5 separate regions of the Homo sapiens genome follow, and regions 2, 3, 4 and 5 are each linked to region 1. The links come from fine-mapping of genetic effects on gene expression. A gene starts in region 1. Each other region holds a variant in brackets. All regions are shown on one strand. Distances are from middle to middle. Region 1 holds the start of MYO5C (myosin VC). Region 2 overlaps MYO5C (myosin VC). Region 3 overlaps MYO5C (myosin VC). Region 4 overlaps DMXL2 (Dmx like 2). Region 5 overlaps TMOD2 (tropomodulin 2).

Evidence for each region. PIP is the estimated chance that this variant, and not a neighbour inherited with it, causes the effect.
Region 2: its variant is fine-mapped to the expression of MYO5C in whole blood (TOPMed, PIP above 0.99).
Region 3: its variant is fine-mapped to the expression of MYO5C in sun-exposed skin (GTEx, PIP above 0.99).
Region 4: its variant is fine-mapped to the expression of MYO5C in monocytes after R848 (Quach 2016, PIP 0.95).
Region 5: its variant is fine-mapped to the expression of MYO5C in monocytes after LPS (Fairfax 2014, PIP 0.95).

What each region holds. Positions count from the first base shown.
Region 1 is chr15:52,293,863-52,298,967 of GRCh38, forward strand. It overlaps MYO5C (myosin VC), which reads right to left and starts at 1,942. Exons shown (of 41, transcript NM_018728.4): 1 at 1,748-1,942. The coding sequence starts at 1,774. It overlaps LOC105370819 (a long non-coding RNA gene), which reads left to right and starts at 1,022. Exons shown (of 4, transcript XR_932250.3): 1 at 1,022-1,349. RefSeq lists an enhancer at 1-164 and a silencer at 1,606-1,765.
Region 2 is chr15:52,240,945-52,246,049 of GRCh38, forward strand. It overlaps MYO5C (myosin VC), which reads right to left. Exons shown (of 41, transcript NM_018728.4): 17 at 5,012-5,098; 18 at 4,410-4,521; 19 at 3,412-3,623; 20 at 1,104-1,269. Among named protein-coding and RNA genes, the nearest start is that of MIR1266, 34 kb to the right of the region's middle. The variant G/A (reference allele first, on the strand shown) is at 3,168.
Region 3 is chr15:52,263,360-52,268,464 of GRCh38, forward strand. It overlaps MYO5C (myosin VC), which reads right to left. Exons shown (of 41, transcript NM_018728.4): 9 at 831-937. Among named protein-coding and RNA genes, the nearest start is that of MIR1266, 11 kb to the right of the region's middle. The variant G/A (reference allele first, on the strand shown) is at 2,617.
Region 4 is chr15:51,580,742-51,585,846 of GRCh38, forward strand. All of the region lies in intron 1 of DMXL2 (Dmx like 2), which reads right to left. Among named protein-coding and RNA genes, the nearest start is that of DMXL2, 39 kb to the right of the region's middle. The variant CT/C (reference allele first, on the strand shown) is at 2,380.
Region 5 is chr15:51,761,829-51,766,933 of GRCh38, forward strand. It overlaps TMOD2 (tropomodulin 2), which reads left to right. Exons shown (of 10, transcript NM_014548.4): 2 at 4,545-4,739. The coding sequence starts at 4,614. Among named protein-coding and RNA genes, the nearest start is that of TMOD2, 13 kb to the left of the region's middle. The variant G/A (reference allele first, on the strand shown) is at 2,609.

The DNA of each region.
Region 1 (5,105 bases):
TGGGGAATAAAGCCCTGACCTCGCTCTCTGGCTGCCATGGCCCTCCCCTTCACACCTCCAGAACAGACAAAATGGGGGCTAACTGCCCACCAGGAAGGGAGGTGGCAGCCTAGGAACACAGGTGTCTACGTGGACACAAGGTCAGTGGGAATGGCCATCAGGCTGCGTCAGTCTCTGGGATTCTCAGATTCTCATTCCCTCCAAGCTTGTACCTTTAAACTCCTTCCTATCAGTTTTCTTACATTGTGCCTGGTACTTACTAGACATTTAATAAATATCTGAGGTTTGAGGCACCTAAAAATAGGGGTGCTTGCACCTGTGTGTTTCTGCTTCTGGAAATACTGTCACCTCAAATAGGTTCAGCAGCAGCATTTTTCTCTGTCCTCCAAAGTATCGTCGAAGACTAGTCCAAGACTTTTCTTTCACTTCCAGTAAACTGAAGGCTGAAGAAGCGCTGTTGGCTGTCTGAGGGCTCACAGTCTCACTGGTGAAAATATTCTAGAACAAAACTAGGGCAATTCAAACACTGTCCATTTAGAACTCCAGTTAATGGAGATGCAATAGAGGAGAAACTACAGTTCGGTTGCTTTGTGTCCGGACTGTTACTAAGTAATCAAAGTAGAAGAAAAACGTTTGCTTAAACCATTGAAACATGATTTTTTAAATAACTATCTTTTCTATCTACAGCAAAAGCATCTTTTAAAGTAGAAAGCTAGAGCATGTGTCCGGGGAAATGGATGGATTCTAGTTCCACTCGTCTGAATACTGAGGTCTCTAGATTTCCCCAACTGGTGTATAGGAGGATCAGGCTTTATGGCTATTCAAATGGATTTTTTTTTTCAAAAGTGCTAACACTGTCACACTCTTTATCCAAATAATTACCCAAGCCCATCTCAGAGGGTTTGGGACATATGTGGGAACGCTGCCCTTCCGAGGTAAGAGGTGGAGCCCCAGCCAGCAGAAAGGAAGCTTCTGAGGAATGCTCTAGTGTTTCCCAGAGTCAGGGTATATGAAAGGCGCTTTAGAAACTGTGGTGTTTGTACTGTTGCTAACAGTACAGATGTTAGGCAAAGAGCCTACGACTGCACCTCGTGGCCCCTGGGCTCCCCAAGCGCTTGGTGCCACTGCAGTGCCCTCAAGCCTGTGACCCAGGCTGCTTCAGCTTCTGATGAGCCTACATGCACGTTCACGCACTTTGAAGACACAGAATTCTAGAAAGCAGCCCGAACACTGCGGCCATAAGCTTCTATGCCAGCTCGTTCAAGGGGGTCCCAGGAGGGGCCAGGAGACTGGCCGGCGTCTCAGCTTCCTACGTCCGCATGGGCAACTCTGATTCCACCCGTGGTGTGGTAGGAAGGGACCGAGGCGCTCCAGTCCCGGGAGATGGGGACGCACGCGCGACCCCTGGGCACTGGGGATTCTAGGCCCCGAGGCCGGAGCGGCGGAGGGGGCGGCCCCTCCCACAGGGTCTTCCCACCCACAGGGCACCCAGGCGCAGCGGAGCCAGGAGGGGGCTTACCCGCGGGCAGGGACGGAGCACGCCGGGGCCCTGGAGGGGCGACGCTCGCTCGTGTCCCCGGTCCCCGTGGCCCCTCCGCGGCGCCTCCGCGGCCCCCAGCGCGCGCCCGCCCGCCCTGCCGTGTCAGGTGCGCAGGTGTGGCAGGTGTGGCCCGGGCGCCAGGTCGAGTCAGCGTTAGCAGGGCCGGCTCCCCCACAGCGCTCCCAGGAGCCCAGCGGACCCTCCTACCTGCGTGTACAGCTCGGCCACCGCCATGGGCAGGAGGGGCCGGGGCCAGGCCGGGGCTGCCGAACGTGCGAGGCTCGGGGGCTGGGCCTGCGCCGCAGAGGCCGGGCGCAGGAGAGACCGCCGCGGAAATCACCGCCGGGCCATCTTGCCCAAAGTTTTCCAACGGCCTCCTGTTCCCGTTCCCGAGTTGGCGGCGAGGGGAGGGGGCAGCGGCGGGATTGGTCCCTCCAAGCTTGGCCCGGCTAGTCGGCGCTGCCATTGGCCGGGGCCGGGCGGCTGCACCTGGCGGGAGCGCGGGTGGAGAAGGTTGGGGCCCGGGGCGCGCTGCCAGGCAGGAACAGATGCATCCGGAGGCTGCCCGGCCCGAGTGTTAGCTCCTCAAAGAGCAGAGGATACGACCATTTAAATGGAAGACCCAAGGGAATCAACGTACTGAACACAAAGAAATGTGTTAAGAGTCCAGCAAGGTCATCGTATTCAAAATCAAATACAAAAATAAGTAATGGTCCTTTATATGAGCATTGTCTATGCAATACAAGATATTTACAATATTAGTGAAAATATAAAGTATCCAGAGATTACACTCGCAAAAATGCCCTTGGCCTTTGTGGAGAAAATGTTTAAAATTCTCTTAAAGAGCTTAAAAGAAGGCCCAGGTAAACGGGAGACATGCCATTTTCCTGGCTGGGAATATTTAATATGGTCAAGGTGTCACTTCTACCCAAATCAATATATATGCCTAATATATTGGCGTCAGAATCCTACAGAACTTTTGGAGAATTGTACAATGATTCTATATTTCATATAGAATAAAAGCCCTGTATAACTAAGACAATTCTCAAAGAGGAGAGATTTGTCCTGCCATATATTTAGGGACATAACAAAGCAGTAGTCATTAAAACAGTGTGACACTTGCGTGAGAACGGATACGTGAGTAATGGAACATGCTGGAGCCCCCCAGCAGGGCCCTACATTATACGGTAGCCTTAAGGACCAGATAGGGAAATAAAATAATATTTATTAGATGGGCCCGTTATATGGAAAAACAATAAAAGCAGATCCGTGGCAAACACTGCATCCAAAAATAAGCTCCAGATGGATTCACGATTAAAACTTAAAACCGGGAAATTATTAGGAATAAAAGAGGGATAATATCTTTAAAATGTTGGGTTATAGTAGTTTCCATATAGAAGAATTGTTAATCGGTTAAAGAAAAGAAATCCAATTTTTAAAACTGACAAAAATTAATAGGCAATTCACAGATGGGGACACTTAAATGGCTTGTTAGCATACAAGGAGATGTCAACTTTAGCAGTAATCAGATAAATACAAATGAAAACAACAATGAGATATTGCTTTTTACCCATCATATTGGCAAAAACATTTAGGTTAGACAATCTCAGATACTGCCTAGGATGTGAGAAAATAAAAACTTGGCCGGGCGCGGTGGCTCACGCCTGTAATCCCAGCACTTTGGGAGGCCGAGGCGGGCGGATCACGAGGTCAGGAGATCGAGACCATCCTGGCTAACACGGTGAAACCCCGTCTCTACTAAAAATACAAAAAATTAGCCGGGCGAGGTGGCGGGCGCCTGTAGTCCCAGCTACTCGGGAGGCTGAGGCAGGAGAATGGCGTGAACCCCAGGGGGCGGAGCCTGCAGTGAGCCGAGATTGCGCCACTGCACTCCAGCCTGGGCGACAGAGCGAGACTCCGTCTCAAAAAAAAAAAAAAAATAAATAAAAAAAATAAAAACTTTTTTTGCTTACATAACTGGTGGGAATATACTGCCATCCTGGAGAGCAATTTGAGAATAGTTATGAAAATAAATGTAGGCAGAAAAATTCTCACAGTCACCCAAAGAGACAGTTAAGTAGATGTTCATCACAACATAGTTATTTATCAAAGAGTTGGAAGCATCTAAATATCAATAGGGGAATAAATAAAATAGTATATACATGGCAGACAGCAGAGAAAAATAAAAAAAGAAATAGTATATACATGTAAAACTCTACAGCTGTTAGTAGGAATAGACATGATCTACTTGACTCAGAAATAAAAAACAATGTTGAATAGATGTCTAGCCCAAGTCTTTAATATTTAAAAACTCACAAAAACTGCAATACTGAATATTGTTCATGGGTACAAGTATGTGTGAATAGAGGTAAGGAGGATAAATTACAAAGTCATTCATTAAATATGCAAGAGTGGATACCTATGAGGGAGAGAAATGGAATCGGAGATTTCAAAAAGGGGATCAAAAAATATAAAGAGAGGCCTGGCATGGATCAATAATGATAAATGCCACAAAGAGAGGATCATGGTAAATTTAATTTTGCATTTATTTATATACAAAATTATTTATATTATTGCCCAAATAATTCTATTTTGTATAAAGAAAAAGAAAATCTATAAGGTGAGTAGTGACAGCTGCCTGATTGCTCAGAGTTAAAAAGAGAATCTAGCTGCCTTTTTTATTTAAAGAAAATTTTTATTGAAGAATAAAATTATATACAGAAAAGTGTGCAAATAATAAGTGTACAGCTCAATATATTCTTATTCATGGAACACATCAACACACCAAAGTAACCACCGCCCAGATCCAGACGTAGAACATTACCGATATCCCAAAACTTTCTCTGTTTCTTCAAATCATTTTCTCTCAAAGATAACCACTGTTCTGATTTGTATCACCATAGATGCGTTTTACCTGTTTTGGATGTTTTTAATAAATGGAATCACATGTGTAACTCTTGCATTTGGCTTTTTACATGGTATTTATTCATCTTGTTGCATGTAGCTGCGGTTTGAGGTCTTTCATTCCTGTCTAGTAGTATTCCATTGTATAAATATTCTACAATTTATTCATTCTCCTATTGATAAATATTTCGGTTGCTTCAGTTTACACCCACTATGAATAATGCTGCTATGAACATTTTATATGTGTCTTTTGATGCACAAATATATGTATTTTTGTTGGGCACATAAACAGAGCAGAATTGCTGGATCACAGGTATGTAATGCTCAACTTTAACGGATAATGCTAAAGAGATTTGTAAAAAATTGTTATATCAATGTATACTTCTACCAGCAGTGTGTGAGACTTTTAGTTGCTTAATATCCTCACCACTTGATGTGGTCAGTTTAAAAAATAGCCTTTCTGATGAGTGTGTTATGATGTCTCACTGTGGGTCCAAGTTGCATTTATTTCTATGATGACTATTGACCACTTTGGTATTCTCTTTTGTGAAATGTCTGTTCAAGTCCACTTGAACTGCTATTTAAACAGATTTTCAACCAATTCCTGTGTTTTCAGCTGCATGCCACTTTCAGTGTTACCTGCTGCCTCTGAACCTAATTC
Region 2 (5,105 bases), 53 kb before region 1:
TCAGGCACCCCTTATGTTGAAGTGAACACTTATTGCTCTCCTCCCTCCTTGAAAGAAAGAAAATTATTTTTTTGCCGTATGAAACTCATCTCATCACCCTTTTCTGAGTCTAAAGCTGCTGCCTCTAAAAGAGCCATCTCATTGTGCTTTGTATTAGTCAGTGCTGGAGAAATCTTGAATAGCTTATGTAGAAAACTTGTTCAATTTTATATTACTTTGAATTCGTTTCTTTGGAGTTGGACACCCTGGACATCCCATCTGGCTGTGAGAGCTCTCTACAGTCTGTGGGGTGGCAGTGGGCTAATCTTTTTTTTTTTTTTTTTTTTTTTTTTTGAGACGGAGTCTCACTCTGTCACCCAGGCTGGAGTGCAGTGGTGCAATCTTGGCTCACTGCAAGCTCCGCCTCCCGGGTTCATGCCATTCTCCTGCCTCAGCCTCCCGAGCAGCTGGGACTACAGGTGCCCGTCACCACACCCGGCTAATTTTTTGTATTTTTAGTAGAGACAGGGTTTCACTGTGTTAGCCAGGATGGTCTCGATCTCCTGACCTCATGATCCACTCACCTCGGCCTCCCACAGTGCTGGGATTACAGGTGTGAGCCACCGTGCCCAGCCAGTGTGCTGATCTTTTAAAATTTCTTTCCCCAACCCAGTCTCTGCTTTAGGTGAGGTCTGTTAGGTGTATATCCTGTCTGTTAGGTGCACATTATTGGCTTAAAATGTACTTTCCTTTGGTGTGGTCTCTTTGGGGCCAACTGGGAGAAAGAGAAACCAACAGTGCAACTGGTGTGTGTGTGTGTGTGTGTGTGAGAGAGAGAGACAGGGTCTCCCTCTGTCACCCACGCAGGCTGGAGTGTACTGGCATGATCATAGCTCACTGCAGCCTCGAACTCCTGGGCTCAAGGAACCCTCCCATTTCAGCTCCCTGAGTAGTTGGGACTACAGGCATGAGCCACAGCACCTGGAAGAATCTCCTTTCTGGCTTGGCTGACACTTTGTACAAAGTGAGGTTGCCCATAGTGAAGTCTTTCCCTGGGCCCTGTTTTGTTCTCAGTAAGGAAGGCCCGTACACCCTCCCTTCCTCTAGACAGAGGTTGGCCTCACCTTTCGATACCTCCTCCTTGCCAGGAATCCTCGGCTGTAGGCCTGCATTGTGATGGTGGCCATGCGAATCAACTGATACAGGCTGCGAACAAGATACCCGCGGCAGTGCTTCTGAATGATTATGGCTGCCCAAGCTTCTTTTAAGGCCACTGCAGTAATAGCTTTCCTTGGTTAACAAGGATGAAGAGTGAGTCTGTTACCCACAGAGCATCAACTTCCATAACAGAGCTGCAAGCTTGGCTAGCATGTGTTTATAAGGAAGGTTCAAATATTTTACACCTCTCCACATTAAACTCTGTGGGCAGTTTATTCTAATGCCTACTTGAGGCCAGTCCCCAGTTCCCTGTCCTTGAGGAACCACATGGGAACTTTCACTCTTTTCATTCAGGCCAGTCGATTCACCTCCACTCAGGTACCCACAGAGACGATGATGAGACTGTGCACTGGTGCTGCACTTGCTCAATCACGTACTATTTACATATCCCCCACGGCTGCTTTCATGACACAGCAGCAGGAGAGACTGCAAGCCCCCAATGCCTTAAATAGTTATCATCTCGTCCTTTACAGAAAAAGTTTGCTGCCCCTGTCTAAATGACTAGAGGTGAAGATAATGTCCTTACCTTTAGAGTTTACAACCTCATGTACAGAAAGACTAACAAATGGCCAAGAAAGAGGAAAAATAAAATACCACCTAACTAGATCTGTAAGTGAGAGGGGAAAAAAACAGTTATTCTGCTTGGGGAAAGTGGGTATGTGAGCCAGCCCCCAATGCAGTAGGATGTCTGTACACAGTGAAGGCTGGAAAAGGCTTTCAGGATAAGGGACCAGCATGAGTAAAGGCATGGAGGCTCTACAGTGCCTGAAATACTCAGAAAAGGAGTTTGTTTGGAATCACTAGAATAAGATGGATGAAGAAAATTAGACGTCAATGAGGTTAGAAAAATAGATGTGCACCATTTGTTATTTTAAAAACATATTTGTTGAACACCTTCTATGACAGCCACCATGCTAGGTCTGGGTATGAATGACCAGACAAGTGTGGCCCCTGCCCTCATGGAGCTTCCATTCTTATGAATGCACCCAGGCTATGGAGGGCTTTGAATATCACGTCAGAGACTGAATGCTATTCTGTAGGAAACACGGGCCTTAAAGGCAGGTGCAGGGCAGTGTCTCAATCAGGCTCTGATGTAGGAAGATGGGAAGGAGGTGGGAGGTGGAGCACGGTGCCATCAGAGTGCAAGGCAGGTGATGCCGTGAGCCTAAACTGGGGGCAGGAGTGGGATGAAATGAATGGGATAGGCAGGAGGCCAGCAGGGCAGGATGATCAGGCTCTGGTGAGCCCCAAATGGGAAGGGAGCGTGGCCTTGGCGGGTAAGATAACTGTGATTTCCTTCCCCAAAGACTGCTGTTATCAACTGGGCACAGAAGCACAGGAGGGCAAGCCAGCCCAGCTGTGTGATCCATGCCACACCACGCTGGTCATGCAGAGAAGGCCAGATGCTGCCACAGTTCAGCCTCCAGCTCAGGAAGAAGTCAGGCTTGCAGACGCAGCCTGACCCTAAACGCCGGCCTTCTCAAGCATCCTCACAGCATCCCAAAGAAGGGGCAGAGCAGGCAGAGAGAAACACAAAGTTTATCTAGGGGCACCCTGGTCTTGTGCTTTCCAGCAGGTACACCAAAGCCCTGGAAGTCCCGGAATGACCGTGGTCCTTCAGTGGGCTGGCAGGGTTGTGTGGACTCTCAGGACCCCTCGAGGCAGGTAGGATCAGCGCAGCTGGTGGACCACCCTCCCCTCAGCCCTTGGCTTGGCTGGGGCTGCTGTGGTCTTCCTGCTTAGGGGTTCTGTGATTGGTTTGCTGCCAGGCCTTGCAGGGACCCCCTCTGCCATGGTGCACCCCACCTGTTGCTGGCAGGCTGGTCGCTGGCTATTCTTGACATCTGTCCTTTGGATCTTCACTAGGGCCTTGCTGATCTTATGCATTTTCAGTTCCCATAGGAAAGGGGCCCCGGGCCTCTCCCTGAGCTTCCGGAACCCTGACTCTCCTTAGTAACACTCTCACCAGC[G/A]CTTCCTCCCTGCAGGGCCCTGGGTGTCGGCTCACCACACAGACACCAGGCAGAGCCAGCACTACCTGCCCCTGAGAGACGGACCTTTCTTGCCCTAATGCTCACGACCACAAAGGGGACCCATGCACGTCTGCACCCTGGGTCACAGGAGAAAGGTCCCTTGTCCTTGATGAGTCCTCCCCGCCGGAGATGATCAGCACAGAAAGCCCCACAGTTCCACATGTGTTCCTTGATTCCAACATACCTCACAGTTTGCTGACCCCGGAAGTACTGCTGGATTATCAGGGCGGCTCGTCTCTCTCGGAGGAATTTTTTCCTCTGGAGCCAGCCACGCATGTGCTTTTGTACCATAACACAACTCTGCCTCAGTTTATCCAATCGAAGTTTCTCTAAATAAGCCACTTGTCCTGCTCTGAAGAAAATTTTGGTTTTACCAAACTGGTACTGATTAGAATCCTGGAAGAGAAAAATGATATAGTTAGAATTAAAATCTGTCAGATTTTCTATAATACAGTATTTGGAAAAGAGCTTTAGGGATTCAAAGGTGCCAGAAATATTGTGATTTTGACATTTAAGGCAGAAAACTCACATCATGATCTAGAAATGTATACTTTGAGTTGTTTGTTTAAAATTACCCTGGAGGAAGAAATGGGACTTAGGCTGAGGAATCCATTTGTGGGTGAGAAGGGGAGTGAGTGTCATTTGCGGCGATTCTCAGTTGGGCTGCCAGAGAACTTCAGCCACTCTCTCGTGGTCTCCACATTGGAGTAGAAGAAACTGGGGAAGTTTGGTTTTCTGTCTCCATTTTGGGTTCTCTTCACCATCCCCTTTGCTGGACCTTATAACTCCCCATCTCTTTCCCATCACAACTCATCGCTGCAGCAATGATGTCAATCCACACAAGGCACCATGCCTGGAGCCCATGTGGCTTGGTGACAACCCCAGTTGACCATATCCTATAAGCCTGGTCCACAGAGGACTGGGTTAGATCGTGGGAGAGCTAAACAGGATACGAGGACACTGGGGAGGCCGGAGTTCGGATGTGGGTCCCTAACGGGGACTCATGGCCCACTGAGCACTCTGCTATGGTCTCTTCAGCAGACAAATGCTCAGGGCACATTTTCTTTCCTTTCAGGTGTTCATGATTACAGTCCTGAGCATTCAAGACAAAGATGAAACAGCATGTTTGGGAGATGTGCTTCCAGGAAGGAGACCATGATCCCAGGAGGTGGGGAAACTGACCTGGATGAGTCTGTGTAAAACCACCTTGCACACCTCCTTTTTATCGCTGAAGGAAAGCTCTTGCTTGGTCATGAGAATGCCGTAGCGACTGTAGAACTCGATGTATGTCCACCTGGAAAATCAAAGGGGATCAAAGCCAGGAGTGTCAGAGGAAGCACATTGTGTCTGGGGACTCCGCTGCCTTACCTGCCACTGTTGTCATAGGGCGGGGGTGGTGCAATCTGTCCTGAGGATAAAGGCACTGATCTTTGATACCCTGCCTGCCTGGGACACTACCAAGACCACCCTGAGCACTCCTGTCTGCCCCAGCAATTGTGCTCTTTCTCCCACTCAGCGTCTTCCCTAGTACACGGGGGAGGCGGTGGGGCCACCACCAGCAGCCGAGATGCAGTGATGGGGTGAGAAGGTGGTGTTGACCTCCGACCCCTACAAAGCCTATTTCTCAACCTCTTCTGGACTTCCACAGGGCAGTGGGAAAATCTTGGGGGCACTTTACAGAAGCCAAAAGTATGTGACAAAAATCATGGCAGCCATGTCCTTGGTTCTCAGCATAGCTCTGATGTCAGGTACTTTTCCCTCCAAGACAAGGACGGACAACATACCTGGAAGGGTAGCTCTGTGCACTAATGCGAATCGTTTCTAAAACGCCGCAGGCTCGCAGCTGCTGAACAATTCTTTTGGAGTCAAATCTTTAAA
Region 3 (5,105 bases), 31 kb before region 1:
AAACACACATCAAATTAACTTGTGTCCATTAAATAAAGAAATCTTTCACAAAACTTACAATACATTCCCAGGAAGCCAGCACCACTGATGTCTGATTCAAGCAGGTGTAAGGAGGTAGTGGGTGTCCTTCTGCTGAAAACTACCCAGTGCCCTTAAGGTCCTATGTGGTCTGCAATCCCCCTCCCCTCTCTGGCCTCATCCACACCCTCCCTGTCACTCACCCTCTGGATACATGGACCTTCGTGCTGTTTTTCAAATGACATCTCCTGCCTGCGGGTTTCTGCACTTGCTGTTCTTCCCCCATCCACAGGCACAACCTGCTTCTTCATCCCCTGCAGGCTGCCACCCACCACCTTCTCAGAAAGTCTTTCTCTGACCACCCCACATGAAAGACACAGCACCTCTGCATGCCCCCTCTGCTTTACTTTCCTCTGTGCCAGCCGTCAGCTGCCAGAGCCCATATTTGCTTGTTGTGTCTCCTCCCTACCCTTGATCATAAGCTCCCTGAAGGGCTTCTTGCTTTGTTTTGTTCACTGCTGTTTCCCCAGATGCTATGACAGTCCGTGGCACTTAGTAGGTGCTTCATACATACTTTTTGAATAAAAGAAAAGCACACAGGAGATCCATTTCCCCTCCTCTACTGTTGCAAGGGGAGGAGGCTTTACTCTTTGAAGGCAAGCCCTGGAAACCCTTGCCGCCTGCCTCCTGTTAAACCAGTCTACCCAGGAGGCCGACTATATCTGGTGCTAAAAAGCAAAGGCAGGTCAGCTGCGAGCCAGTTCCACTATGACCCTTAGACAAAGGAAAAGTAAAACAAATGAGCATCTCACACTAACTGAGGACCTCTCGTTGCCCACCGCGGTGATCTGCACATTGCCCAGATGTAGGATGGCTGCCAGGATTTTAAAAACGTCCATCTGAAAATCCTCCTTGAAACCTAAAAACAAACATTTTCCCAGATTAGAATACTGCATCTCTTCTCTGACTAGTAAGATGGGCACCTGGATTCATTCAAGATATGCAGGTAGCATCAGTGCCAAGCTCTGGGACAGGAACGTGAAGTGGACCCCAGGGGCATCTGGGGCACTGTTCCTTCTAGTCGACCTCTGTAGACATATACCACATGTGTCTATACACAGGTTTCCCCTCTGCCATGGCTGCTAGGAAGTTCAACACAAAAATTAATATCCCAGTAATCATTTCACATTAGGTTCCTCGGAGAGTCATCTTGCCTTGATTCTGTGCTTGATTTTGAATGTTTTTCATTTTTCTTTTTGCTCACAAGCTCTCTGAATCCCTGAATTATTTTTTAGGTGGGATTGCTGGAGGGATTCCGTTTGCCCCTCCAGATTCTCTGCTCTCTGCCCCAGGGGACTTGGTATAAACCAAGGCGATGGCCTTTCATGCCCTCTGGCCTTTGGTTGGGTTTGATTCATGGGGAGCCCTAGCAGGAGAGCAGAGAGAGGAGCGGAGAAGGTTCCGAGTGCGTCCTCCCCAGCCCCCTTCCCTGCAAAGCTGCCTCCAACTGGCTGCATGGCCTGACTGACAGAAGGTCACTGCTCCTCTGGGGCTGACTTTACCCAACTCTCCTTCTAGGCTCCAGAAACACTTGGATGCCCACATGGGAAAGAGCAGTGAACAGTTCTGCTGCTGCCCCCCAGGTGCCCACTGCCCCTTGTATTAATAGCTCCCCTAGACTCCACTCACACCTCTGCAGTTGTAAATAATAAATAACCCCTCCCTCTTGTATTCTGTTGTGAGCCTGCCCCATGTTCCCCATTGGGACTTTGATTGCAGTAAGTAGAATATAAATTATGACTACATACCATATTCAGTCACCGTGAGGGGATTAGCACATTTCCTGGAGCCAAAAAGAAAGAAAACCAGCTGCTAGAAAGGACTGTGTTCAAACCCTGTAAATCACAGTGTAGACCCACACGCTGTGAGCCCGGTTTTGCCAGGTCGGGATCCCCCCAGTGTGTGTTAATGACACTGTGGTGACTTAAGCAGCTGAGAGATGCGCTCGGGCTGGCAGGCAGGCTCATTCACACCAGGCAGGCTGCCTGGTCCACCCTGGAATGGACACTGGAATGGAAGCCAATGACCCCTCACTTGAGGATACCTGGAGTTTCCATTAGCAGGTAGGTCATGTTCTTTAACAATTTCAAAACCTACAGTTTTTTGTTTTTTTTTTTTTGAGACAAGGTCTCACTCTGTTGTCCAGGCTGGAGAGCAGTGGTGTGATCATGGCTCACTGCAGCCTCGACCTCCTAGGCTCAAGTAATCCTCCCACCTCCGCCTCCTGAGTAGCTGGGACTATAAATGTGCGCCACCACGCCCAGCTAATTTTTTGTAGAGATGGGGTTTTGCCATGTTGCCCAGGCTGGTCTTGAATGCCTGGGCTCAAGTGGTCCACCCTCCTTGGCCTCCCAAAGTGCTGCGATTATAGGAATGAGCCACTGCACCTGGCCCAGAGTCTCCTCTACTACAAAGATTAAATAAAATCAGTCTCAAAAGATTTCAATCCAAGAACACAGGGAAGACTCCAGCTCCAGCTGAGTCCAGGCACTTGCTGCCTTTCCATTTGGAGGTAACTCCTCCATCCGAAGGACAGAT[G/A]TGTCCAACAGAAATATACCCCAGGCCTCCACCACAGTAATGACAGGTAAGTGATCATGAGCAGCAACTAAAAATGCCAAGTGCAGGAGCCTCCATTCTGGCACTCCTCCCTGCTTTCTGTGATCCATAACTAAACCCCTTAAACTACTCCAGGCCTTCCAGAAACACAAAAGGGAGATAACAACTCCAAAACATTAATACAAAAGAAAGAACTCAAGACCTGCGTTAAGTAATCATCCTTAGTGAGCCTGTCACACAAAAGCAATGCCAGCCTGAATCAGATTTCCAGGGGGAGCTCACTGGTCAAGTTCCTAGAGCCTGAGGTCCCAGGGACAGCCTGATTCCAAGGTGTTCGTCCCATCAGAGGGCAAGGATCATAGCAACACTCAAATGGCAGGGGTCAGTGGATGAATCACATGAGAAAGACACAGCAGAAGAGCAGAAGAAAGGGACTTTTTAATCAAAATGCCTCCCCTCGCGCTTCTCCAGGGGTAATCTCACTGCTAACTGAGGGATCTCAGCAGCAGAAATGGAGGGGAAGGCGAAGGGAACACTGCCTCAGGCACCGTCCTTGGTATTTTCCACGCATCAGCTCCTCTCATGCTCACTACAACCACCCGAAGGAATCCTAGTATTGTTCCCATCTCACAGAGGAGGAAACTAAGGCATAGGAAGGTTAGGGAACTCACCCGAGGTCACACTGGGTAAGGTATATCTAAGCAGTTTAACACCAGTGCCCACCGCAATATGAGAAAAGACCCACAGCGTTCATGAGGCCATCTAGCTTCGCCCTAGCATGTCTAAACAGAGAAGTCCCTGATGACCTCGTGCAAGGTGAAGGAAAAGTTTGAGCTGAGGTACCCTCTCTTGAAGGGAGAGTTGCAGGGAAGAGGTGCAGTGGCCCCAATCTCTTACCACCTGCCCACTTCACACAGCACAGCAGGCAGCCATCACCATTAATGCCTTGAGAGGACACGGTACTCTACCTCTCCACAAAACTCCAGAGGGCTTTGTCTAAAACTTCTAAGTCTGTGCACAGGCTAAGTGTCCAGGGCCAACCCGGCACATGCAGGGCCCTGAGAGTGAGTGCCTCTCTCGTCTCGTCCCAGTCTTGGCCCTGGGACTGAGGAACGTGATGTGGAAATCTGTAAACATAACCTAAGTTGTGTGAAACATGGGGGCAAATGGCTGCAAATTGCTGATCTCCAACAATTAGAAAAGGTTTCATGGAAGAAGAGATGGTTTTACTCAAAGTATGGTGAGGCTTTGGACAATTGGGAATGTAGAGAGCTAGCAGGCAGGGAGTAGCAGTTACTATGCACCTGCTATGTGCTTGGCCTGGTGCTGGGGACTTTTACATATGCTTCCTCACGAGTTGTCATGAAAGATAAGGTGCGTTGCCACTCACAGATCAAGACACTAAGTCTTGGCTGGACATGGTGGCTTATGCCTGTAATCCCAGCACTTTGGGAGACAGAGGCGGGCGGATCACCTGAGGTGAGGAGTTCAAGATTGGCCTGGGCAACATGGTGAAACCCCATCTCTACTAAAAATACAAAAATTAGCTGGGGGCGGTGGCATGTGCCTGTAATCCCAGCTGCTCGGGAGGCTGAGGCAGGAGAATTGCTTGAGTCCCGGAGGCAGAGGTTGCAGTGAGCCGAGACTGCACCATTGTACCCCAGCCTGGGCGACAGAGCGAGACTCCATCTCAAAAAAAGACACCAAGTCTCAGAGTGGGTAACCTTAGATTCATACCAATTAGGATTTGAATTCACATTCATTTGATCCCAAAGCCTACTCTATTTGCCCTACATTATCTTGCTGTGAGGAGGAGGACATAATAGAGGTGGGAGAGAGTAGAAGGATCAGGGAGATGAGGGTGGGCAGGGCAGGGCATATCCTTCAGCCCAGCCAGAGCTTGGCCACCTGTCCCCTCCTCACGCACCAAGCCCCCTCTCCATGGAGTACATTATACAAAGATTGAAATGACGACCATAATTATTTTCAGCAAATGTAAGTCAGTGCCGAAAGTGTTTATCTTATTATTATAAAATGTTTAAACTGCCTTTCTCCTCGAAGCAGGTTTGAGGGAACAGTCTGATGGTGATTTTGCTTAGAAAACCATCTTGTTTTCATTCTCCATTATCCAGCTGTGATCGTCTTGCCTATTCCTTGGATATGTTTAACCTGAAACTCTTAGTTTTTTACATTCAGATACAGTCAACCAGGCCACAAGAATGAAAGCACTTAGTATGAATCGGCGGGACATTTCAGCAAGAGAGATTTCAGCAAGACGTAGAAATGGCTGGCCGGGCGCGGTGGCTCATGCCTGTAATCCCAGCATTTTGGGAAGCCAAGGCGGGCAGATCACGAGGTCAGGAGATTGAGACCATCTTGGCCAACACGGTGAAACCCTGTATCTACTAAAATACAAAAAATTAGCCAGGTGTGGTGGCGTGTGCTTGTAATCCCAGCTACTTGGGAAGCTG
Region 4 (5,105 bases), 710 kb before region 1:
AGCTGATATTAGTAATTCACAGCTCAGAGATAATTCTGTAGCATAAGCTGTTACATCCAAAAAAAACTTTAAAAATATTAACCCTCACTTGTTATAATCCTATTCTTATAGACCAAATCCATCCTATTAGGAAAGAGAAAAGTATTCTCTGCTTTGAACATTGAAACTAAAAGTTTTCAACCTGAAGTCTAATAGACATAAGTCATAGATGGCCTCAGTAGGTCTCTGAACTCCGAAAAATTGTATTTAAAGTTGTGCGAATGTGTTTCTTTTCTTTGCTGTGGTACTATTACCACAATAAAGATATTGCTGCTTTCTTTAGAGCAGGGGTCCCCAATTCCTACTACCAGTCCATGGCCTGTTAGGAACTGGGCCTCACAGCAGGAGGTGAGCAGTGAGTGAGTGAGCAATACTGCCTGAGCTCCACATCCTGCCAGATCAGCGGTGGCATTAGATTCTCATAGGAACTCAAGCCCTATTGTAAACTGCACATGCTAGGGATGTAGGCTGTATGCTCTTTATGAGAATCTAATGATAAACATAATGTGCTTGAATCATCCCAAAACCATCCCTCTCCTTCACCCCTCGCTGTAGAAAAACTGTCTTCCACAAAACCGGTCCTTGGTACCAAAAAGGTTGGAGACCGCTGCTCTAGAGGGTTTAATGTCCTAATGAACAATGCAAATTTTGAGATCACTGACAACCACTGACAGATGCGTCTAAATTTAAGAGACAAAAAAAGCACTGATAAGGGAGTATTAGGCATGTTGAGAGGTCTTTTAAAATGCAGTGTGAAGAGGCATAACACACTCATTCAGTCTTCTCTAACTTTAGTTTTATATATAATTGTCTTAACTACATTATTTTCAGAAAAGAAAACTAATACTCTAATCCCACAAACACTGTTCTAATTTCTCAAATTTCCTTTATGTCTCAGATAAATTGAAGTGGAGAGTAACAAAAGGAAAACTTTTAAAAAGCTTAAACAAACATGACCACATTTCCTATGAAACTATAGCATACAATAGATTAATTACATTAGCATTTACTATAGAATAGTTGGATGTTTTAACATCCCGGAAGTTACAGGGTCAAAGTTTGAGATCATTGACAACTACTGATAAGTGTCTAAACTTCAAAGACCAAAAAAAAGAAACAAAACCTGATAAATCAAGGTGTACTAAGCATGTTGAGAGGTTTAACAAAGTACTATAATCTTACCAAGAATACTATATCAAGAGTGTTACTATTAAACTCCCACCGCTCCCTGGGAGTGAGTTTTGATCAATGTAAATATGTCTACTTTTCTACTGAAGAAGGTACATTTTATTAAGAGTTAGAAAAATAATTACAAGAAGGAGGTACCATTTATTAAAAACCTACTGGGTGACAAGTATTATACTATTTTCATTCTATATTCCTAATCTTTCTTTCAAGACTGCCACAATCCTAGAAGTTGGTTATTAATCCCACCTTAATATTTTTGAAAAAGGAATTTCACAGGATTTAATCAAATTCCTATGTCACAAGGTAAATACATGACTATAATTCAAACTCAGCCCTCTTTACTGTTTTTTCCACTTTACTAATGACATTTTTCTATCGTTTCGTTTTCTGTTGCTCAAATTTTTTGCTCTTTATTAATTGCATTTAAATTCTTCACTTCTGCTGTGATCTTTGCTCATAAACAAAAAAACTAACAGGAAGGCAGGGTTGTCTGGGCTTTGATGGTTACTTGGCTGTACCAAGAGATCTTATAGAAAGTCTTAAGAGGCCAGTGTTGACATATGAAAAATCTTACAACCAAGAGGACAAAACACAGATTAACAAAGATTTCCCAGGAAAACACCCATTCCTTCTCTCCATTTTAGTCACCTAATTAAAACCCTAGCTCTTTATGATACTCTCAGAATTATTAATTTCTAAAAAGGACAAATAGGTTTCCTTAATACGTTCCTGATTAAGCAAGAAATTTCACAAGTCACATATACATTGAAATCATGTACAAGGTAAATAAGGCACATAAAATGTTTAATATTAATGTTTTCAGTAACAAGATTTTCTTTTTCATAGAGGAAATCACACATATATTAAATTTTAAAATTAAATAAGAAAATGAAGTCACCTTCTCATCCTTTTCACCCTTCTTACCCCTCCCCTCCTCATTCCCAGGAAGCAATTACTTAATAATTACCTATGAACCCTTCCTGAAATGTTCAATATATAAAAGTATATCTTTTATATATCTTCTTTTAACATAAATGGGATCATGCTATACACAATTCTGCCACTTATTTTCCACTTAGTTAACAATGTATCTTGAAGAACTTTCTACATCAGCACAGAGGAAATTACTTCATTCTTCTTTTTTTTTTTTTT[CT/C]TTTTTTTTTTTTTTTTATTATACTCTAAGTTTTAGGGTACATGTGCACATTGTGCAGGTTAGTTACATATGTATACATGTGCCATGCTGGTGCGCTGCACCCACTAATGTGTCATCTAGCATTAGGTATATCTCCCAATGCTATCCCTCCCCCCTCCCCCGACCCCACCACAGTCCCCAGAGTGTGATATTCCCCTTCCTGTGTCCATGTGATCTCATTGTTCAATTCCCACCTATGAGTGAGAATATGCGGTGTTTGGTTTTTTGTTCTTGCGATAGTTTACTGAGAATGTTGGTTTCCAATTTCATCCATGTCCCTACAAAGGATATGAACTCATCATTTTTTATGGCTGCATAGTATTCCATGGTGTATATGTGCCACATTTTCTTAATCCAGTCTATCATTGTTGGACATTTGGGTTGGTTCCAAGTCTTTGCTATTGTGAATAGTGCCGCGATAAACATACGTGTGCATGTGTCTTTATAGCAGCATGATTTATAGTCCTTTGGGTATATACCCAGTAATGGGATGGCTGGGTCAAATGGTATTTCTAGTTCTAGATCCCTGAGGAATCGCCACACTGACTTCCACAATGGTTGAACTAGTTTACAGTCCCACCAACAGTGTAAAAGTGTTCCTATTTCTCCACATCCTCTCCAGCACCTGTTGTTTCCTGACTTTTTAATGATTGCCATTCTAACTGGTGTGAGATGATATCTCATAGTGGTTTTGATTTGCATTTCTCTGATGGCCAGTGATGATGAGCATTTCTTCATGTGTTTTTTGGCTGCATAAATGTCTTCTTTTGAGAAGTGTCTGTTCATGTCCTTCGCCCACTTTTTGATGGGGTTGTTTGTTTTTTTCTTGTAAATTTGTTTGAGTTCATTGTAGATTCTGGATATTAGCCCTTTGTCAGATGAGTAGGTTGCGAAAATTTTCTCCCACGTTGTAGGTTGCCTGTTCACTCTGATGGTAGTTTCTTTTGCTGTGCAGAAGCTCTTTAGTTTAATTAGATCCCATTTGTCAATTTTGGCTTTTGTTGCCATTGCTTTTGGTGTTTTGGACATGAAGTCCTTGCCCATACCTATGTCCTGAATGGTAATGCCTAGGTTTTCTTCTAGGGTTTTTATGGTTTTAGGTCTAACGTTTAAATCTTTAATCCATCTTGAATTGATTTTTGTATAAGGTGTAAGGAAGGGATCCAGTTTCAGCTTTCTACATATGGCTAGCCAGTTTTCCCAGCACCATTTATTAAATAGGGAATCCTTTCCCCATTGCTTGTTTTTCTCAGGTTTGTCAAAGATCAGATAGTTGTAGATATGCGGCATTATTTCTGAGGGCTCTGTTCTGTTCCATTGATCTATATCTCTGTTTTGGTACCAGTACCATGCTGTTTTGGTTACTGTAGCCTTGTAGTATAGTTTGAAGTCAGGTAGTGTGATGCCTCCAGCTTTGTTCTTTTGGCTTAGGATTGACTTGGCAATGCGGGCTCTTTTTTGGTTCCATATGAACTTTAAAGTAGTTTTTTCCAATTCTGTGAAGAAAGTCATTGGTAGCTTGATGGGGATGGCATTGAATCTGTAAATTACCTTGGGCAGTATGGCCATTTTCACGATATTGATTCTTCCTACCCATGAGCATGGAATGTTCTTCCATTTGTTTGTGTCCTCTTTTATTTCCTTGAGCAGTGGTTTGTAGTTCTCCTTGAAGAGGTCCTTCACATCCCTTGTAAGTTGGATTCCTAGGTATTTTATTCTCTTTGAAGCAATTGTGAATGGGAGTTCACCCATGATTTGGCTCTCTGTTTGTCTGTTGTTGGTGTATAAGAATGCTTGTGATTTTTGTACATTGATTTTGTATCCTGAGACTTTGCTGAAGTTGCTTATCAGCTTAAGGAGATTTTGGGCTGAGACGATGGGGTTTTCTAGATAAACAATCATGTCGTCTGCAAACAGGGACAATTTGACTTCCTCTTTTCCTAATTGAATACCCTTTATTTCCTTCTCCTGCCTGATTGCCCTGGCCAGAACTTCCAACACTATGTTGAATAGGAGCGGTGAGAGAGGGCATCCCTGTCATGTGCCAGTTTTCAAAGGGAATGCTTCCAGTTTTTGCCCATTCAGTATGATATTGGCTGTGGGTTTGTCATAGATAGCTCTTATTATTTTGAAATACGTCCCATCAATACCTAATTTATTGAGAGTTTTTAGCATGAAGGGTTGTTGAATTTTGTCAAAGGCTTTTTCTGCATCTATTGAGATAATCATGTGGTTTTTGTCTTTGGCTCTGTTTATATTCATTCTTCTTAATAGCTGCACAGTATTAGTATTTCATGTTGTGGCTTTGCCATAATTAATTTTGGTTGTTTCCAGTCTTTTACTATTTCAAACAATGCTTCGATGAACATGTATGTATAGATGATATATGCGTATGTGTCCAAGAATCCCTACAGGATAAATTCTAAGATATAATATGCTGGATCAGTGATTAAAATTAATTGCAACTGCAAATTGTCTTCCAAAAAGATTATAGCCCCAAGCTGTATAAAAGTACCTATTTCTCCACTTACTCACTAACCCCAATCATTATCAAATGTTTTAATCTTTCCATTCCAACAAAACCTGACATCTCCCTGTTCTAATTTGTATTTTTATTAGAAGATAAGCATCTTTTCACATATTTATCAGCCATTTATATTTCTTTCTCTGTAAACTGACTATTCAT
Region 5 (5,105 bases), 530 kb before region 1:
CAAAATATAACATGTTTTCTTAAAAATACAAATTTTTGGCCGGGCACGGTGGCTCATGCCTGTAATCCCAGCACTTTGGGAGGCCGAAACAGGCAGATCACGAGGTCAGGAGATCGAGACCATCCTGGCTAACACTGTGAAACCCTGTCTCTACTAAAAATACAAAAAAAATTATCCGGGCGTGGTGGCGGGCACCTGTAGTCCCAGCTACTCAGGAGGCTGAGGCAGGAGAATGGCATGAACCCGGGAGGTGGAGCTTGCAGTGAGCCGAGATTGCGCCACTGCACTCCAGCCTGGGTGTGAGTGTGAGACTCTGCCTCAAAAAAAAAAAAAAATACAAATTTTTGGCTGGGCACAGTGGCTCATACCTGTAATTCCAGCACTGTGGTAGGCCAGGCTGGGAGGATTGTTTGAAGACTGGAGTTGGAGACCAGCCTGGACAACATAGTGAGATCCTGTATCTTCAAAAAATAAAAAAAAAATAGCCCGGCATGGTGGTGCACACCTGTAGTCCTAGCTACTTAGGAGACTGATGTGGGAGAATCGCTTGAGCCCAAGAGGTCAAGGCTGCAGTGAGTTGTACTGACATACAACTGAACTCAAGCCTGGCAACAGACTGAGACCGTGTCTCAAAAAATAATAATAATTTTTACTTTATTGAAAGAGCTGTTTTCGACTTCCACATAGGTTTTTTGAAATCTTTTTTACTGAAGTGTAAATGACATACAATAAAGTGCACATATTTCAAGTGTACAGTTTGATAAGTTTTGATATATGCATGTATGTGTGAAACCATCACCACAATCAAGGTAGTAAACATATGCAACATCCCCAAAAGGTTCCCCATGCCCCTATGTCATTCCTCTCATCAGCCCCTCCCACCTCTCTCCCATGCCTAAGCAACTGTGATTTCTTTCTGTCATATAAATTAGTTTATGTGTTCTAAAATTTTAGATAAATGGAATCCTGCAGTATACATTCTTTTTGGTCTTCTTTCTCTCATTATAATTATTTTGAGGTTCATCCATGTTTTTGTGTACATCAATAGTTCATTCCCTTTTATTGCTGAGAAGTATTCCATTATGTGGATATACGACAATTTGTTTATTTTTATTTATTTATTTAGGGACAGGGTCTTATTCTGTTGCCCAGGCTGGAGTGCAGTGGTGCAATCATAGCTCACTGCATCCTCGACCTCCTGGCTGAAGCAATTCTCCCACCCCAACCTCCCGAATAACTGGGACTACAGGCATGTGCCACCATGCCCAGCTAATTTTTAAAAAAAAAAATTGTAGAAACGGGGTCTCACTGTGTTGCCCAGGCTGGTCTCAAATTCCTGGGCTCAAGAAATCCTCCTGCCTCAGCCTCCCAAAACATTGGGACTACAGGCGTGAGCCACTGCACCTGGTCACAATTTGTTTTTTATTCATTTACTATCATTCACATTGTTTTCAATTTTTGGCAATTACAAATAAATGTGCTATGAATATACATGGATTTTTAAAATCATATATCTCTCCTGTGCATACATTAAAAGGGGAAATGTAAGTGAAATGCATTCATTAGTTGATATTCTTAAAACTTCTTCACACTCAGAGTCCAACATTTTAGATCACTATTTTACTTATCCATATCTGGTTCTTTTCCACATAATAATTTCCTCTGTGCCATCGAGTGGTAATTTAAAAAATCTGTAAAAAAACAAAACTAAAACTAAAAGCCATTGAACTGGGCACTTAAACTCACTCTGTAATTATGTGGAACTGTCCTAATCTGGGCCTCTCTTCAGGAGTGCTGCTAAACATACCTGCATTGTCACCTCCCCACGATTGTCTGCTTTCTAAATTTTAAAAGAGTATTCCACAGTTGTCCCTGGGATTTCCTTCCAAGACCTTTACATCCACTCTGCTAGTTTTGAAGTTGGTGCTTTTGATATTTAGGTATATACAAGCAATGACAAGTACATTTTTACTGCTGCTGGGACAACAGTAATTGTAGGACACCATGAATTCTAAGACACATCTCAATTTCAGAATGTTAAATGTGGCAAAGTATGCATTTTAGAATCCATTAAGTAGGGTGCTTCAACCAATTCATTTGATGGATAAGGGCCTGGAAGATGCCATCCTTGTCCTGTGTGATGCAGTAAGTTAGTGGTAGCTGGCACCAGAACAAAGTGTATAGGATCCAATTGGTTTCTCTGACTTTAGTAGAATTTTTGTTTGTTTATTTACTAGAATATAGTCATTAAAGATTTAAAAAAAAAAAAGGAGGGCTGGGAGACCTCATCTCTACAAAAAAAAATTAAAAATTAGCTAGGCATCGTGGCACATGCCTGTAGTCCCGGGCTTCGTGTTGCACACTTGTAATCCCAGCTACTCCAGAGGTTGAGGTGGGAGGATCACTTGAGCCCAGGAGCTGGAGGTTGCAGTGAGCCGAGATGGTACCACTGCATTCCAGCCTGGGCAACAGAGGGAGACCCTATCTCTAAATTAATAAATAAGAAGCTGAGCTAATGGAAAAGAGCGTTGCATTGCATGTGAAAGGGGTATCGACACAGAAACCACAAACCTGAACATTGTGAGCCGTTGAATTCACAAAGGAAAGG[G/A]AACACTATTCCAATAGCCCTTAAGAGGCCCACCTGCAGCCAGTCTCGTTCCATGCCAACTCATTCTTCATTCTTATGATTTGAACTCATAAAAAAAGATTGGCGTGCTCAGATCACTCCCCTACTTTAAGAAGCTGTGGTGGCTTGCCATTCCCAACAGAATAAAGTTCAGGTCCCTTAGCAAGGCGCAGAAGGAAGGCCCTTCACAGATGTCCCACCCTCGTCTTTAGTTCTTTCCTCTCCCTTCCTCCATGAATCCCCCTCTGTAGCCATGCCGCCTGCTCTACCAGCATATCATTTACTGTCTTATCCTGTACCCCTTTGTGCTGTTCCCTTTTCCTAGAATGACACTTGCCCATTCATGTCCACCTTATGACCTCCTCCTTCAATGTTCAAACACAGCCTCTTTTTCACAGTTTCCCCTCAAACTTCCCCCACTTACTCAGTGATTATTTCCCCATGTGTTTTCAAACCTACTTTTTACATTATGTCTAATACTTACGGCATTATTGCTGTTTGTGTGAGAGTCTCACTAAGCTGTGATCTTGGGGAGAGGGGGCATTTTGATAAATATAATTTTTTTTTTGAGAGAGTCTCACTCTGTCACCCAGGCTGGAGTGCAGTGATGCCATCTCAGCACTGCAACCTCTGCCTCCCGGGTTCAAGCAATTCTCCTGCCTCAGCCTCCCGACTAGCTGGGACTACAGGCACATGCCACCACACCCAGCTAATTTTTGTATTTTTAGTAGAGATGGGGTTTCACCATATTGGTCAGGCTGGTCTCAAACTCCTGACCTCAGGTGATCCACCTGCCTTGGCCTTCCAAAGTGCTGGGATTACAGGCGTGAGCCAACGTTCCTGGCCTCCTCATGTGTTTTTAAACCTACTTTATACGTTACGTCTAATACTTATGACATTATTGCTATTTGTGTGCCTGTCTCACTAAGCTGTGATCTTCTTGGGGAAAGGTGGCATATCTTGTTTATCTTTGTATTTCTGTTTGCTAGAACTATGCCTGGCAAATAGTAGGTATATAACAAATATTTATTGGCCTGAAAGATGTGATTGGTGGTAATACCTCCTAAGGAGAAACACAGTCAGTGAAGTACATTACTGTTTCCTGAATGAGTATTATCTTTCTAAGGAAGATCTGTAGAATCCTCTGCAAGGAGAAAGGGATTGAGTAAAAATTGCATTTTGGGTGAATATTTAGAAGTGAGGTGGTATAAAAAATAAGGGTCGAGAGAAGAACGGTCTGAGGGTATAAAGAATGAATACGTAGAACAAAAAGGAAATGGGACTAGAAATAGAATGGAAAACAAAGCAAGGAGAAAAATAGAGAGAGTGATCATGTGGCCAGGATTTTAGAATCGCACTTAGTTTAATTGCAGGGGAGTTACTGGACAATGCTTTCTCACATAGACGTTCCAAACTCTCGTTCCTGAATGAATCCCATTTTGTATTCTTCACATCACTCTCTCCCTGAAAAGACACAAGTATGCTTCTTACAACTGCCTTACAATTAGTGCATTGTTCTCCCCTGTTTTTCTATGGAGAGCCAGGGAAGGCAGAGTAGTATAAGGGAAAAGCACCCACTATGCTGGGAATCAGAAGGCGGGGCTCACGCATCCCAGCTCTGTGACCTCGAGCAAGGCACTAGGCCACTTTCACCTCAGAATTGTCATCTATAAAATGGGAATGATAATATCGTCACGGGCTTCCTCACAGGATTGTTGTAAAGATCAAAATAAGTGAAATATGTGAAAACACTTTGTAAGCTGTCAGGTTGCTCTGCAAATGAAGGGAATATTACCTTTTTGTTGAATTATTCATTCAATACAGTAGGCTCCATTGGAGGCATACTTCTGTCTCCTGTTAATAAGTCCTGTTTACAGAACGGAGATTCTTTTTTATTGTGTTTCTTTTTTATTAACAGTATTCTGAAGTCTCAGGAAACTGGACCATTTAAATGTGCATGGCCCATGAGAAAGGCTTATAAGAAGCCATGGCACTCCCCTTTCAAAAAGAGCTGGAGAAATACAAGAACATTGATGAAGATGAGCTTCTTGGCAAACTCTCAGAAGAGGAACTGAAACAGTTGGAAAATGTTCTAGATGACCTAGATCCTGAGGTTAGTGACATGGAACTGAAGCAGAGTGGTTAATGATAGTATGGATAAATGGCATGGCTTGGTCCTTAAACAATGGTAGAAATCCCTTAGCTCGGAATGCACATTTTCTTTTCTTCCTCTGATTGGTTCTGGGTCACCTGTGTTTACAAATTCATAGAGAACCTCATAGCCACTACAGTGTGATACAGCAAATGTATTTCTCAAAAACCAGCCCAATGTAAATGGGGGGAAATATTTTCCGTTGGTTGAGAAAGGACTAGTCTTGTTTAGGGGAAAAAGAAGGAAAGAGGAAAAGAGAGCAAATCTTACTGAGTTTTTTCTGAGTCATATATTTCTCTGGGCACAGAAGCCCTTGAGGTAAACTTT